Regions from separate parts of the Homo sapiens genome. Here region 1 is linked to region 2. The links come from fine-mapping of genetic effects on gene expression. Tissue or cell type: esophagus muscle. Region 2 holds a variant in brackets; the other region holds the start of a gene. All regions are shown on one strand. Distances are from middle to middle.

Region 1 (8,185 bases), 61 kb before region 2:
CTTACTTGGCCGGGCACGGTGGCTCATGCCTGTAGTCCCAGCACTTTGGCAGGCTGAGGCAGATGGATCACCTGAGGCCAGGAGTTTGAGACCAGCCTGGCCAACATGGTGAAACCCCATCTCTACTAAAAAATACAAAAATTAGCCAGGTGTGGTGGTGGGCACCTGTAATCTCAGCTACTCAGGAGGTTGAGGCAGGAGAATTGCTGGAACCTGGAAGGTGGAAGTTGCAGTGATCCGAGATCATGCCACTGCCCTCCAGCCCAGGCTGACAACAGTGAGTCTCCATCAAAAAAAAAAAAAAAAAAAAGTTTACTTTTGGCACAATGAAAGACATAGTTAGGGGATATCATGAGGCAGTCTTTTTATGGTGATGGGTCAGTTCTGTATCCTGATTATGGTGATGGTTACTTGCATCTACCTGTGGGATAAACGTTCACAGTACTATACGCTTCTGAAATATAAATAAATATTTTTTTTAAAAGAGCGTGTAAAAACAAACTGGGGAAATCCAAATAAGGTCTGTACCTAAGTTTACAGTATTGTATAATACTAATGGTAATGTTCTGGATTTGACATGTACTATAGTTATGTAAGACATTGCCATTGGGGGAAGCTGGGTGAAGGGTACATGAGAACTCTTGGTACTATTTTTGAAGCTTCTTGTGAAATTTAAACTATTTCAAAATGAAAACGTTACTTTAAAATTTTGTTTCAGACTTCTCCCTTCTCCTTTCCAAACCACAGGGAGTCCCTTTTTCAAACAAATATATTCCTAGACATGGTTGAATGATCCAGAGGTGGGCACCTGACCCAGCCCAGGTTCATTGGAATTTTTTCCTGGATTTTTTTTTTAACTTGTGTATTTTTCCATTATATCGTTATACTACAACTGTTAGTCCATTCTTCTGTTGATGAATTTTTTGGAGTGTTTCCAGTTTTGAGCTATTATGAATAAAGCACTGTAAAAATTCTTTTTTTTTCTTTTCTCTTTGCAGAACTTACAATCTGTGAAGATTCTCATACAAGTCTTTTGGGAGACATTTTTTTTTTTTTCATTGCTCTTGGGTAAATAACTAGAAATAAAATTCCTGAGGCATATAGTTATTTACTTTGTTAGAAACTGCTGAACAGTACTACAAAGCAATCATACCATTTTATACTCCAACCAGCAATGTATGAGAGTTCTGTTTTGTTTCATATTCTCACCAATATGTGATATAGCTAGTCTTTGGTTTTAGCCTTTTTAGAGAGTGTGAAATACTGTCTCATTTTGGTTTTATTTTGCATTTCCCTGATGTGTAAAGATGTTTACCAATTTTTCATGAGCTTTATTGGCCATTTGTATATCTTCTTTCCTGAAATGTTGGTCAAATGTTTGACATTGGAAGACCAATAATGCAACCATATAAGTGGCTTCTTCAACAGGGCATACCCTGCATTTTACCTATCATATAGTAGATTAAAACCAAGACAAGAAAAGCACACAGCAGTTAAAGCTTGACATTGATATATCCTGGGGTTAAGTTGAATGTTTTAGTGAAATTTTATGGAAGGGCTCCCCTTCTGCCTTCTTACCAGCCATTGGCGCCAAAGTACCTTTGCCACATATTCTTGGGCAGCTCCCCCATTTTATAGGTTTCAGAGCTGTGAAACAGATGCTTGGGCTGCAGCTGCTTGTGTGGCTGTTTCTGAACTTATCCTTCCTCCACTCCTACCAGGCAGGCTACAGAGTCCTGACAATGAATAGCTCTTGCTTGTCCTGCCAAGTTTTCTTCATGGCTGGAGAGAGACTTCACCTCCTACTTCCTGTCCTATAATTCAGCTGTTTATTTTTCCTGAGTGCATGGATAAACAAACAAATGAATAAATCAACAAGAAGCTAAGCCATCAGGACTTGAGTGCAAACCCATCATGATAGTAACTGGCATCTCTATGAAGCACTGTAGTTTATAACATGTTTTTACATATAAAATTTATTTTTGTCTTCAAAACAAAGTCATGGGGCATTATTATCATCTCCATTTTACAGATGAGGAAAATTAAGGCTCAGGGAGGTTAAATGAGTTGGCTATGGTCATCCTCCTTGGCTGTTGTTCCTGAGAAGGGAAAGCTGTGCCTGGGATTCACAAATAATGACATGGCGGAGACAACCCAGTCTCTATTAGCACAGACTAGTGTTGGGAGGGAGGCAGGTGGGGACGCAGAGGGCGAGGGGACCAAGGGAGCCTGAGGTGCTGGATTCCTTTAACTCCCAAAAGTGCTAACCTAGGGTAGCTCAGGGCACAAGGGCAGGTCTTTGTGTGGTATGAATTGAGAAGTCTTGCCAGGAACTCCTACCAGAATCTACTTCCCTGGCTATACAGAGTACCTCAGTTTTCATAATCATTCCTCTCCTCCTAACTAGGACAGTACTGCTTAAACTTTCCCATTGAAGTTTTCCAATTGCTGAGGCCATTTAGTCGTTAGGGATGATTGGAGTCTCCACCACTGAAGCCAGGAACCCCAAATCTGTTAGGACTCCCCAGAAGCTGCCAGAGAATTGCTGCACTGAAGAGTCTTAGGAGCAGGCAACTGATTTGAGGGGTAGGGGACCAGGCCATAGAGTTTTATTTGTATAGCACAGAAATTGCTTGCATATAGATTGTGTTTTTATTTTGGGGACTGATAGAGATTATGACAGGTGCCAAGTTCCCTTCAAGCCCCTCCTGGAAATAACAGTACAACTTACATGTAGTCATTCTTGGTATCCCTGGGAAGAGATGGAGAATTATTCAGTACATTTCTTCTTAGTGACAAGAAATTTCTAAGGTCATTATACAATAGTACCCACACTTAACCATCCACTGGGTCAGTAGGGTACTGCAGTTAAGAGTTAGGCTTCAGAATGTAACAAACTTAGGTTATGCCCCTTCCTATTATTCTACCAGTCATACCATACAAGGTCAGTGCGTATTAACTACATTATTATTACTGGTGGAGAAAATATAAAGTGACAAAAAACCACTTTGGACTTAGTTAACTTATATTAATTTGCATTTTAGAAATTACAACAGCACCTACAAACATTTGACAGATAGTGGTATAAAAATCTGTGAGTGGTGTTATTTTTCCAGACCACGGACAATGCTTTGTATCCAGATTGATTTGGACCTGTTGCAATGATTGCTCTGCAGAGGCATTTGTCCATCGTGCTGGCACTTCGATACAGTGGAAGAGCATGGATTTTGGAATCTTACAGGCCTAGATTCAAATCCTGGCTCTGTCACATGCTAACTGTGCCATCTTTGACAAGTTACTTAGCTTCTCTGAGTCACAGTTTCCTCATCTCTAAAATAAGGGATAATACCTGCCTCACAGGGCCAGTGGAGGATTGAGTCATATAATATCCATAGGAACCTGACTAATGTTGGGTGTCAAATAAATGTTCAATTGTTCTCTCACAGCTTGAGTGAACAGAACAATCCACATCAGTTTGAAAACAATTTTGGTTGAGTTGCAGAAGCCTGGACATTAAGGACCTCATACCTAGAAGGACTCGTAGCCCCACTAACTGAGAGCAGAAGGATAAGTATTCTTCACATTCAACAGTGCTTTAAATGTTTTATTAACAATGTCTTCTTCCAGTGCATGTAGGGAGAGCCCCAGCCTCCACCTACTCTCTTTTACCTAACTTATCATTCGTAACTTCTTAATCTCCCTTTCTTGAGCTTTCTCATTGCACTTAGCCTGGAAGCCTCAGGTAAGTGGCTCTACTCACCCTGCAGTGAAGTGGGTCACGGGCACAATGTCGCTGGGTCATAGACTATGGGTTTCTAAGGCCTGCCTCAGGGCAGTTAGACTCCTGCAATATCCCTTATTCAAGAGTGGTCCTGACTGCAGTGTTGATGGTGGTGGAGCAGACCCTCCATGGGTCACTTTCCTGAGAGTCAGGTAGGAATCATCCATTGGCTCAGAACAGCCCTGCCACTCTTCCAGGGATGGAAGGCTAGAGGCCATGCCAGAGACGTCTGTTCTACAAGCAGGAAGGCAGGCAGGGCAGAAGTGAATGCCAGTGGACTGTGCAGACCTCAGCTTGGGGAGGGCATGTTCTCCTGGGAGTGGAGGTGGTTTTATTGCCAGGGAGCTGGGAAGTTGCCTGTGGTTTTGTCTTCCTGTTCCCTGTACAGCTGCCTTCCACCTTTCTTCACTCAGTGGATGTGGGGGAGGACTGTGTGCAGTCTGAGAAACTGGACACGCTTGTGGAAGGACCCAGACCAGACTTCTTCCTCCCCTCAGCGCAATGTGCTTTGCCTGTTTCAAGAACGTCCCTTCCATTTCCTGTTCCTGGGGCTGCACAATATGCTTCCTCTCTTCCTTTGGACATAAGCCTGAAGAAAGATACTCTCTTCTTGAAGAAGTTTTCATCCCTGGCTATAATCTTTTTTCCCATATCCTTAGCAAGTATGGGCAAATGAGCACTCACGTTGCTACTCCCTGGTTTTGCATTGATCTCCTAGAGCAGGTGGCCACACTTGCACCTTTTTCTCAGAAGTGGGATTGGAGTAAGGAGCCAAGTTCACCTATCATGATCATGTGACATAGTGGTTTGAGATCATGTGACATACTGGTACGGGGATCATATGACATTGGAATGGGAACAAAAAGCAGGAGACCCAATATTTCAGGTAAATAACCAATCCAAGAATAAAAATTGCTAGTATTTCCTGTTATCCTTTTAAAGTGAATTATCTGTTTCTTATTCGCAAATTTAGAAGCTGTTTGGCACAATTTTAGATATCTAGAAACAATCTATCAAAATATGCCTCCTGAGCAACTTGGGGGTTCATTAGGTTAATTAATTAATAGTGGTTAATAAGCCCTTTGAAATCCTCTTATTAATTGGGTCACCTAAGTCCTAAGTACTATTATAACCAGGCCTAATGAGGTCAATGGTTTAAAGAGAGGGTTTTAAACCATATATAAAGCTCCTCTAATGATCATTGGTACAGGACGAAGGTAAGAAAAGCCAGGTGAGTCTTCATGCTGGTGTTTAAAAGTTTCCTCCACAGCAGTAGAGCCACGCTGATGTCTACTCTGTTGAAGCCAGGTGCGCAGTGATCTACTGACTAATGGATTCTCCAATTGTTAAGCCTATGTTACAGGACAAAGGCCGTCGCTTTGTAAAAGCTTGAAGTGCAGTTTGCTGCTGAGTACAGAAGACCTTTGCAAACAGAGAGGGGAGATTTTCTCTGTAAGGTTGCAAACAAGGTTAGTGCTGGCCTTCTTATGTCTTGTAAAACTTATAAGCTACCATTTGAATGAAACCAAGAATAGAGTTGATTGAGGAAGAAATGGAGCAGAGGAAACCTCTTCTAAGTCACGTTCTCATGCTCCTGTTGGTATTTTGTTTTATTTTGTTTTCCCTACGGAGACCCTGGTATAAGAATGGAAACACCCAGGCATGGTGGCACGCATATGTCGCCCCAGCTACTCAGGAGGCTGAGGTGGGAGGATCGCTTGAGCCCAGGAGTTTGAGGCCATAGTGAGCTATGATTATGCCACTGCACTCCAGCCTGGGTGACAGAGCAAGATCCCATTTCTAAATAAATGAATGAAAGACCAAAACTGATCCTTGAAGCCAGGGGTAGGGTGAATAACTAGAATGAAAAGATCAGTATTTTTTTTTTTAAAAAGAAAGGGAACAAAATTGTGGTGTTACCAAGCTTAGAGGTGGGATGGGAGTGTATATTTAGTTACATATGTAAGATACGCATGACTCATGTCAATATGAAATTGGATTGAAGTGAGATTAGGAGTTTATGCTTAAGAAAGAGAGTGTGCCAACAAACTATGTACTGAGCCTGTGAGAATACTATCTTGAAACAGGGAAATGAGTAGTGAATTGGAAATAACTCTAAACTTTTTAAAATATCAAAGCAAATTTTTCTTTAGGAAATTTTCAGGTTTTAAAATTAACCAGTTTCTATTTCAAATCAGAGCAGGTCCTGGAAGATAAGATTCCCCGCCATGTTATCCTCCGTGGTGTTTTGGGGACTAATTGCCCTCATTGGTAAGTCACTGGCTGAGATTTAGCATTGTTCACAGGGTGTCCACAAAAACCTCCAGCACAATCATGAATCAGAAAGAGCAATGATTACCTGTAATGGAAGAGTGGGCTCTCATTCTGACCAGCTTGGCCATTAATCAACTATTATTTCTATAATTAACAGTGTGTTCTGCTTGCTAAGCAGGTGAAAAACAGGATCTATGGGAATTTCAAATAATCTAATATTTATTGATCTGCTTACTTCCTGTCTGACAATGCACCTATCAGGCTGGATACCTTACCGAGAGGTATATGGAACAGTGCCTTGGAAGCAAAACACATGAAGAGACAATTATCAATGCCAAGCAGTGGATGAGAGTTCAATGTGTATAGGTGGGAAAAAAGCACTAGTCTGGGAAAGGTTTGGGAGGAAGAGCTCACATCCAACTAGAATGCTCAGATGTGAAAGGCTTTTGGGGGGGACATGTCAATTGAAGGATGCTTGGTGATTTAATAAGAAAAAGGAAGAGCCTGCTGGATGGGAAGAAAGATTTCAGTAAAAAAGCAGAGGCAGAAATGAATGAAAAGTCTTTGGGTCAGTGTGGTCTGGACAGACGAGGGGGTTTCTGGGGGGAAGGCTGGAAAGATAGGTTGGTAAGTTGGTAAGGGATCTTGAATAAGAGAATGTGAAAACTCTGACCTAAGCAAAATGAAAAGCCATTATGAGCAATGTTCAAGTTGTCTTTAATTATAGAATGGTGACTGAAAGGAAAGTGTTTCTAAAATGTTTAATTCTAAATTTGGAAAAACAAGGCTACCCGAAAGTAATTTCCAGTTACTTATGGTCAAAACAGGGCAACATAGTTTTAAATTTTTACTCTTTTTAGATTGCCAGGTGAGAGCAGAGTTAAATAGCCAGTAGATTAATTATGAGCTACCATATTAGCTGTGTATAGCTGAAAGGTGACTCTTAATTTAAAAAGGGCTTGTGTGTTTATAAGGCCTACACAGGCAGCGTAGGGTCCATGGTCATATTCCAGTTCCCTTAAAGCAGTGGTTCATAAACATGTGTAAGAGTCAACTGGGAATGCTGGGTAAAAGGCAGCTTCTTTCGCCTTATACTGCAAGATTTTGGTGCAGTAGATCTGGTGTGAAAAGCCCAGTGATAAGCCTTTTTTTTTTTTTTTTTTTTTGAGACAGAGTCTTGCTCTGTCGCCCAGGCTGGAGAGTGCAGTGGTGCGATCTCAGCTCACTGCAAGCTCTGCCTCCTGGGTTCATACCATTCTTCTGCCTCAGCCTCCCAAGTAGCTGGGACTACAGGCGCCCACCATCATGCCCAGCTAATTTTTTTGTATTTTTAGTAGAGACAGGGTTTCACTGTGTTACCCAGGATGGTCTTGATCTCCTGACCTCGTGATCCGTCCGCCTTGGCCTCCCAAAGTGCTGGGATTATAGGTGTGAGCCACCACGCCCGGCCCAGTGATAAGCATTTTTAATAAGCTTCCTGGGTAACTTTGATGCCTGTGGTCTGTGGGCCACACAGTGAGCCTGGCAAAGACTGCCTCCCAGTGAAAGGATACTGAACCTGTCAATATAAGGACACTTGATCCAGATAATTTAAACAATCCCTTTCTGTCTCATTCCTTCATCCATCCAACTATCCATTCTTCCATTCAGCAAATGTTTATTAAATGTCTACTTTGTGCCAAGCATTGTTCCAGGTGCTGAGGAGGATATAGCAGAGAAAAACATCTAGTATCTGACCTAATGAAATTTATCTTCTAGTGAGAGGAACGAACAGTAAGAGAGTGAGAGGAAAAAGGGAAGAGAGAGGGAAAGAGTGAGAGGAAGGGAGGGAGATAAAAACATTTCACCTGTAAAAATTTTTGGGCTGGGCACGGTGGCTCACACCTGTAATCCCTGCACTTTGGGAGGCCGAGGCAGGCGGATCAAGAGGTCAGGAGATTGAGACCATCCTGGCTAACACAGTGATACACCATCTCTACTAAAAATACAAAAAATTAGCCAGGTGTGGTGGCAGGCACCTGTAGTCCCAGCTACTTGGGAGGCTGAGGCAGGAGAATGGCATGAACTTGGGAGGCGGAGCTTGCAGTGAGATAAAAACATTTCACCTGTAAAAATTTTTGGGCTGGGCAC
Region 2 (8,185 bases):
ACCCTTGAAAATTTTATCAAGCTGTGTGATCAAAAAGCTAGTCCTTATTAATTCTCAAAGTATGGAAAGGAAGGAAGGGATACTACTTATGTTAAGCAAAATTATCCCATTTTGAGAAAAACAAGACAATCTCCGCATGGAAGTTTCTTTGCTTTTCATTTTAAGGTACCTCCCAAAGAAGCAATCTTGTTCATGTCAAAATCTCCCTAAAATGGCCTGTGTAGTTCCAAACTGTCCTTGGTGAAACTGTGCCAGTTAGATAATAGGCATACTAGCTAGCATTCTTATGAGAAAAAAAAAATGAAGAAAATAGGTGTTTGGCCTGAAAGAGGTACAATTTTAGATTGAGGAGACCCTAAGAGAACTGCAGTCGTCCTTAAAGGTAGTGTTTGGGTTGACTTGGTGGCCACGGTCACCACCAGATGTCAGGCAAAACCTCCTGAAAGAAGGCAGGTGACACTAAACAAAGCAATCCTCAAAGACACAAAGTCAAGACCGAGGAACAAACCCTTATAGGGTTTTGAAGTGATGATATGAGGCAAAGGAATGCCAATCTGAAGAAACCTTCTAAACTATACAGCCACTATGATAAGGTCCAGGATTGACTTTTCAGGTTTGGCTGGGGGACTTTAAGGAGGCCTCCATGAGCCCTGCCTCCTGTGGTCACACTTCTGTGTAATTCCTCCCTTCCTTGAGTGTAGGTAGGAACTGCAACTTGTTCTTAATGAATGGAATGCAAAAAAGGTGACACGAGGCACATGATTGCATTTATTTGATTATCTAAGAGTGTAGTGCCCATCTTGCTAGTCTGTCTCCAATGCTGGTTTTGGAAGAAGCAACTTGCCATGAATCCTACAGCCATAAGGAAACAAATTCTGCCAACAACCTGAGAGTGCTTGGGAGCAGATCCCTTCCCTGTCAAAGCTACAATGAGCACCTGGCCAGACACGTTTTTCCAGCACTGAGATCCTAAACAGACTACCCAGCTAAGCCACGCCTAGACTTCCGACCCACAAACATTGTGAGACAATAAGTGTGTGTTGTTTTAAGCAGCTAAGTTTGTGGTAATTTGTTCTGCAGCAATAGAAAGCTAATGCTGCTGGCCTATGCCCATATTTTCACTAAAGACTTTTCTTCTTGTAGACACTTTTATTTCTAAATATTCAACTTAACATTTAGATCCCCTCTTCTAGCTATGGGCTGTTGAGATTAAAATTAGTTACTCAAACTTTCTTACTGTTTGAGTAAAAATTAACCATGGTATTTTCCCCTATTTACACAATATTAATATTAGTACAGTAAGGCCAGGTATGGTGGCTCACACCTGTATTCCCAGCACTTTGGGAGGCTGAGGCAGGAGAATCATTTGAGATTAGAAGCTCCAGATCAGTGTGGACAACATAGCAACACTTGGCTCTACAAAAAATTTTAAAAAATACTAGCCGGGAGCGGTGGCATGTATCTGTAGTCCTAGCTGCTCAGGAGGCTGAGGTGGGAGGATCACTTGAGCCCAAGAGTTGGAGGTAATAGTGAGCTACGATCACACCACTGCCCTCCAGGCTGGGCGACAGAGTGAGACCCTGTCTCTAAAGAAAAAAAAATTAGCACAGTAAAAGAGATGGCGCTAAATTAGCAGAGGCTGCTTTTATTTTCACAGATGTCTTCGACCCCACATAAGCAAGGACACTGTATGTTGTGGCACACAGGTTTCTCTCCAACTAGACGGAGCTCTTAGAAGTTAGTGTCCTTTGGCTCCCCTCCAGGCCTTACACACACTGGATATTCAATAACTATGGAATTAAAACTGCAGTTGCCTTTAAGCTTATTTATTAATGGGATCTGGTTTCACTGTGGGTGGCACTTCCACTTTAACGCAACGATCAAAAACATTAAGATCTACGACAGGATGGATATTGGGACAATAAGCATGACAATGTCATTGTTGCCAAGCCAAATTTTACAAGAGGTGAAGGGAAGCAAAGGGTAACTAGAATGCAGAGGTTCTTCATCATCATCTTCAATCAGCTGTCACAGAATTCCCCACTACTGAACCTCCCTTACAATTCTTACTTCTCCCCACCCCTCCAGGTATCTAAAATAGAAAAGAAAGGAAATAATTCTCCCTGAGAGATTTCCGCCTCCTTCTTCTTTCTTTTCAACAGCAACCTCAACTGTTGACAGAGGTTCCTTAGGATTCAAAGAACAATTCTGAAGCTGAAAACAGAATAGTCTGTTTTTGAATAAATCCTAAAATATTTTCATTTCACACCCTTGTTCCATGAGGAAAAAATTTACATAGAGACAAATAGGTTTTGTTCAGGCAGTGTGCAATAATAAAGTTTAGGCCAAATTAGATTTATAATTAGATATTAAATGCTGGTTTGGTACTAAGTTTAGGGATAAAATGAACCCATATCCACATATGTACTTATAGACACCAAAGCACAGAACAGATAATCTAGCTGGCATCCAGTGTTTCTTGACTTTGGCTGAATCTCTGTTCCCCAGAACAGACTGTAAGCTCCAAAAGGTGGGGACCATGTTTTGGTCAGCTTTGGATTTCTCCAACACCTTGCACAGTGTTCATGCAAAGAGCCACTCACAGAAATTGTTGAATTCACTTAAAAAAGAAAACAATTTTGGCTGGGTACAGTGGCTCATGCCTGTAATCCCAGCATTTTGGGAGGCTGAGGTGGGAGGATGGCTTGAACCCAGGAGTTTGAGACCAGCTTGGACAACATAGTGAGTCCCTGTCTCTATGAAAAAACTTTAAAAAATTAGCTGGATGTGGTGGCACACTGCCTGTAGTCCTAGCTACTCTGGAGGCTGAGGTGGGAGGATCACTTGAGCCTGGGAGGTCGAGGCTGCAGTGAACTGAAATCATGCCACTGTATTCCAGCTTGGGTGACAGAGCAAGACCCTGTCTCAAAAACAACAACAACAATACTAACGCAATTTTTATAAAATGGTTAATGAGGCTTGCTAAGGTGGCAGTAGACCCAAACGCAGATGTTCAAACATTGCCATTCTTACATGTTTTGGAGTGAAACAGTGAAAGGGAAAGGACAGAGAATTAAACCAAATTAAACTAAAATCTCCAAGTCTGTAGTAAAAGAGAGCTGCAGCAGGTTTAGTCAGTGAAAAAAAAATTTTTTTTTTTCCCCTGAGATGGAGTCTCATCCTATCACCCAGGCTGGAGTACAGTGGCACCATCTCAGCTCACTGCAACCTCTGCCTCCCGGGTTCAAGTGATTCTCCTGCTTCAGCCTCCCGAGTAGCTGGGTTACAGGCATGTGCCACCATGCCTGGCTAATTCTGTATTTTCAGTAGAGATGGGGGTTTCTCCATGTTGGTCAGGCTGGTCTCGAACTCTTGACCTCAGGTGATCTGCCCGCCTTGGCCTCCCAAAGTGCTGGGATTACAGGTGAGCCACCGTGCCCGGCCTGAAAATGGTTTTGAAAACATATTTTAATGAAAACACTTTCTCACCATCTTTAAATAAAAACAATTTGCATTTTCCAATCGGAAGCTGCTGGGGCATTAGGACTCATGTGCTTTCTGCTCCACAGGTTTCAGATGCCACTGCACTACTAACTCCCC[A/G]GTGCTTTTGAGGCACGTGTTAGACATGTTCTCCTCTGCTGGAAGTCCTTGTGGCAACTTCAAGGGCTTGATTCTGTGACACAAGAAAATGCGTTTAGATAGGAGGAATACGTTCTAGCGTTCTATATCCCCGCAGGATAACTACAGTTAACAATAACACATAGTTTCAAATAGCTAGGAGGAGGATGTTGAATGTTCCCAACATGAAGAAATGGTAAATGTCTGAGATGATGGATATGCCAATTACCCTGATCGGATCACTATACTTTATATATATTGAAACGTCACTATGTACCCCATAAATATGTACAATTATTATGTGTCAATTAAAAAAAAACAAAATAAAATTTTAGTTTTTTAAAAAGTTTTTTTCAGAACATTAACGAAAAAAGAAAAATGCATTTAGAATTACACTAGGCAATACATTTTAAAAAGAGCTGAGAAGAAACAACAAACCTTATCAAATGCTTAACTACTTTCAATTTTGCATTCACTGAAGGGATATTCTTGTGAACTTGAGGGGTATGTGCCTGTGAACAACAACAACAAAGCAACGTTATCAATCTGAAAAGCAGATAGTTCCATGTTTCAGTAAAATGTTAAATTGAAGGTTCATTCTAAGCCAAATTTATAAATAAATTACCCTAAGTAATACAAAATAAATAATAAATGTATACCGCAAAGTTTTAAAAGTATAAAATTTAAAGCAATGTAAACAACACTAAAGATGATTAAAATAATTGCATACTTTTTCTAATCCAAGCATCTTTATTATATCTTTTTCCCAATATGGACGTCTTCTTGTACTTTTTATTCTGGTAACAATATGCAGTTTATGAGGGTTCTGTGGATCCCCACCGTATTTTTCATGATCTTCAGGTGAGGCCTGAAACACCTAGAAAGGAAAGAATTATAAATGGTAAATTTCCAACTTACACAGTTTCTGTGTACCTCCCATTTTTTCTTAAAAGACACACACACATACACAACTACATAATTACCTCATCCTTAATCATCATGTAATCCTCAACCTCAGATTGAACATTTCTATCAATCTGATTATGCAGATAGATGGAGTTTAACCTGTAGAACAAAGCAGGAGCAACCAGACAACACTAAATAATTTAAATGTCAGGAGAATCTGTAAGCACTGCTATGAGCTGGGCACTGGGCTGCATCCTCTTCCCTCCCTATTCTCAGGTGAAGAGCTGACTATCAAGTGGGAAAACAAACATGTAAATTAAAAATGAAAATAAAACATAAGTATTATAAAAAGAATCTACAAAGTATTATGAGAATACAGGCAAATGACTAATGAACTCTGCCTATGAGCGATCAGAAACAGCTCCACAGAGCTAATACTTGAATTAATTATCTAAGAATCAAAAGGTTCTAAGAAACTATCCCACAGAAACACTCCTCTAAGTATACAAAATATACCGAATAAGGATGTGTATTCTAACACTATGTGTAACACTGAAAAGTTTAAAGGCAACCCGTGTTCCTCACCATGATAACTACATTATGATGCATCCATTCTAAATAAAATGATTAATAATAAAACTAAGTAAAATGATACAAATACACAAATTCTTTTTTTTTTTTTTTGAGATGGAGTCTTGCTCTATCGCCCAGGCTGGAGTGCAATGGCACGATCTTGGCTCACTGCAACCTCTGCCCCCAAGGTTCAAGCGATTCTCTTGCTTCAGCCTCACGAGTAGCTGGGATTACAGGCGCACACCACCGTGCCCAGCTAATTTTTCTATTTTTGGTAGAGATGGGGGTCTCACCATGTTGGCCAGGCTGGTCTCGAACTCCTGACCTTGTGATCCGCCCGCCTTGGCCTCCCAAAGTGCTAGGATTACAGGTGTGAACCACCACGCCTGGCGCAAATACACAAATTCTGATGTATCCTATAGGATACAATACTACCATTAAAATGAATGAGGTTTACTATCTTTGCAGGTCTTCACATTGAATGATGGCCATAATATATTCTTGAGCCAAAAACCAAAAAGAAATGTCCACACAATTATGTGTTGTAAGCTGTTATGTGCATCATCTGTACCAAATACATGAGTGTGCATATGTGATATATTCTATAAATACTGTTTCTAAGACTCATATAAAATATATATAAAGGTCTCAAAGACATTAGATCAAGAGTCATAGCTCTGGGGAAGCAGATTTAGAAAAAAAATTGACCCCCAAAAAGATGGTATTTTAATAAAAAAGAATATCATTCATGATTAAAAACAGTTTTGTAGAAATGTAAACAGTGTAAAAGCGTTCTTATTTCTCCACAGCCTTGCCAGCATCTATTGTTTCTTGACTTTTTAATAATCGTCACTCTGACTGGCATGAGGTAGTATCTCATTGTGGTTTTGATTTGCATTTCTCTAATGATCAGTGATGATGAGCTTTTTTTCATATGTTTCTTGGCCACATAAATATCTTCTTTTGAGAAGTGTCTGTTCATTTCCTTTGCCCACTTTTTGATGGGATTGTTTGTTTTTTTCTTGTAAATTTAAGTTCCTTGTAGATTCTGGATATTAGACCTTTGTCAGATGGGTAGATTGCAAAATTTTTCTCCCATTCTGTAGGTTGCCTGCTCACTCTGATGCGAGTTTCTTTTGCTGTGCAGAAGCTCTTTAGTTTAATTAGATCCCATTTGTCAATTTTGGCTTTTGTTGCAATTGCTTTTGGTGTTTTAGTCATGAAGGCTTTGCCCATGCCTATGTCCTGAATGGTATTGCCTAGGTTTTCTTCTGAGGTTTTTATGGTTTTGCACTATTGGTGGGAATGTAAATTAGTTCAACCATTGTGGAAGACAGTGTGGTGATTCCTCAAGGATCTAGAACCAGAAATACCATTGGACTCAGCAATCCCATTACTGGGTATATACCCAAAGGAATATAAATCATTCTACTATAAAGACACATGCACATGTATGTTTATTGAAGCAGTACTTACAATAGCAAAGACATGGAACCAACCCAAATGCCCATCAATGATAGACTGGATAAAGAAAATGTGGTACATATACACCATGGAATACTATGCAGCCATAAAAAGGAATGATGTCATGTCCTTTGCAGGGACATGGATGAAGCTGGATGCCATCATCCTCAGCAAACTAATACAGGAACAGAAAACCAAATACCGCATGTTCTCACTCATAAGTGGGAGTTGAGCAATGAGAACACACGGGGAGTCGGGGGCAAAGGGAGACCATTAGGACAAACACCTAATGCATGTAGGGCTTAAAACCTAGATGACGGGTTGATAGGTGCAGCAAACCACCATGGCACATATATACCTATGTGACAAATCTGCACGTGTATACCGGAACTTAAAAAAAAATGTATACAGTGAGAGGTTCATATTATATTACTAAACAGAGAGAGCAGCTAGAGAAGCATTGATTCATATGAGATGAATCACATCTTAAAACACACAACACAGATTGAACTCCGTATTCTACTCTTTCCTCCTCATTACTGCACTTGACTAGTCTAAAAGAAAAAAATAAAACATACAACAAAGAAGGATGTGGAAGGAGTTGGCAGCAGTTATCTCGGGGTGGGTAAGATTAAGAGTATTTTTTGGTGAGTTTTGCTTGTTTATATTTTTCTAGAGATTTTGAAGAGATTAGGATGAGAAGGATGGTGGAGATCAGAGGAAGGGGTAGGTGCACTAAAGAAAGGTGAGAATATTTAAAGGAACAGTATGAAGGAGCACAAAATATTTTGGAAAGGCAAGTGGTTCAGGGTGGCTAATATAGAAAAAAGCACGAAAAGTAATGCAGAGGATGAAGTTAAACTATGCGCGACTATGTTGAGCCTTTAGAAATTACCGCTGGGGATACAGAGTTAATGAAGGTTAGAACCAATAGGACCATGTTTCTATGAGATTTGCAAAGAAAACTCTTACCTAAGAATAAAACCAACTGGGGATAGAGACTGATACAAGGAAACCCAGTTAGGAGGCACTTATGACCATGGTTTAAGAGCCTGAACTACAGTAGCTGTAACAGAAAAAGGACTGATATGGGAACTCTGGGCAGTAATATAGATGGATTTGTGTTGGGTGAAGAAGAGGGAGGCTGAGCTTGATTCAGATGTCTTTAGTCTGGGAAATTAGATAGAGGATGGTAGCATTAACTGACATAACTAATACAAGAGACGCACCCTCTTTTTTATTTGGTTGTTTGGAGGGAAAGTAAGATGAGTTGAATTTTGGATATGAACTTGAAATACCTATAAGTTATCCAAGTAGCAATGTCTAGAAACCAGTTGAGAATACAGGAGAATACAGGAATAAGTTCAGACGATAGGCAGGGGCCAGGCGTGGTTGCTCACGCCTGTAATTCCAGCACTTTGGGAGGCCAAGGGGGGTGGATCACGAGGTCAGGAGATCAAGACCATCCTGGCCAGCATGGTGAAACCCTGTCTCTACTAAAAATACAAAAATTAGCTGGGTGTGGTGGCACATGCCTGTAATCCCAGCTACTTGGGAGGCTGAGGCAGGAGAATTGCTTGAACCCGGGAGATGGAGGTTGCAGTGAGCCGAGACCACGCCACCA

Alleles and levels. Alleles are on the strand shown, and positions count from the first base shown. SD is a standard deviation of normalised expression in the study named.
For the expression in esophagus muscle of the gene that starts at base 4,604 in region 1, allele A in region 2 goes with a lower level than allele G (large effect, 0.82 SD a copy in GTEx).

The links. PIP is the estimated chance that this variant, and not a neighbour inherited with it, causes the effect. A credible set is the group of variants that fine-mapping cannot tell apart.
Region 1: it holds the start of LYG2, and the variant in region 2 is the best candidate, but not a certain one, in a credible set for the expression of LYG2 in esophagus muscle (GTEx, PIP 0.58).

Annotation. Positions count from the first base shown.
Region 1 is chr2:99,252,085-99,260,269 of GRCh38, reverse strand. LYG2 (lysozyme g2) reads left to right here and starts at 4,604. Exons shown (of 7, transcript NM_175735.4): 1 at 4,604-4,667; 2 at 5,133-5,250; 3 at 5,985-6,052. The coding sequence starts at 6,010.
Region 2 is chr2:99,191,061-99,199,245 of GRCh38, reverse strand. MRPL30 (mitochondrial ribosomal protein L30) reads right to left here. Exons shown (of 6, transcript NM_145212.4): 4 at 4,349-4,495; 5 at 4,057-4,130; 6 at 1-3,673. The coding sequence ends at 3,541. Among named protein-coding and RNA genes, the nearest start is that of MRPL30, 14 kb to the right of the region's middle. The variant A/G (reference allele first, on the strand shown) is at 3,601.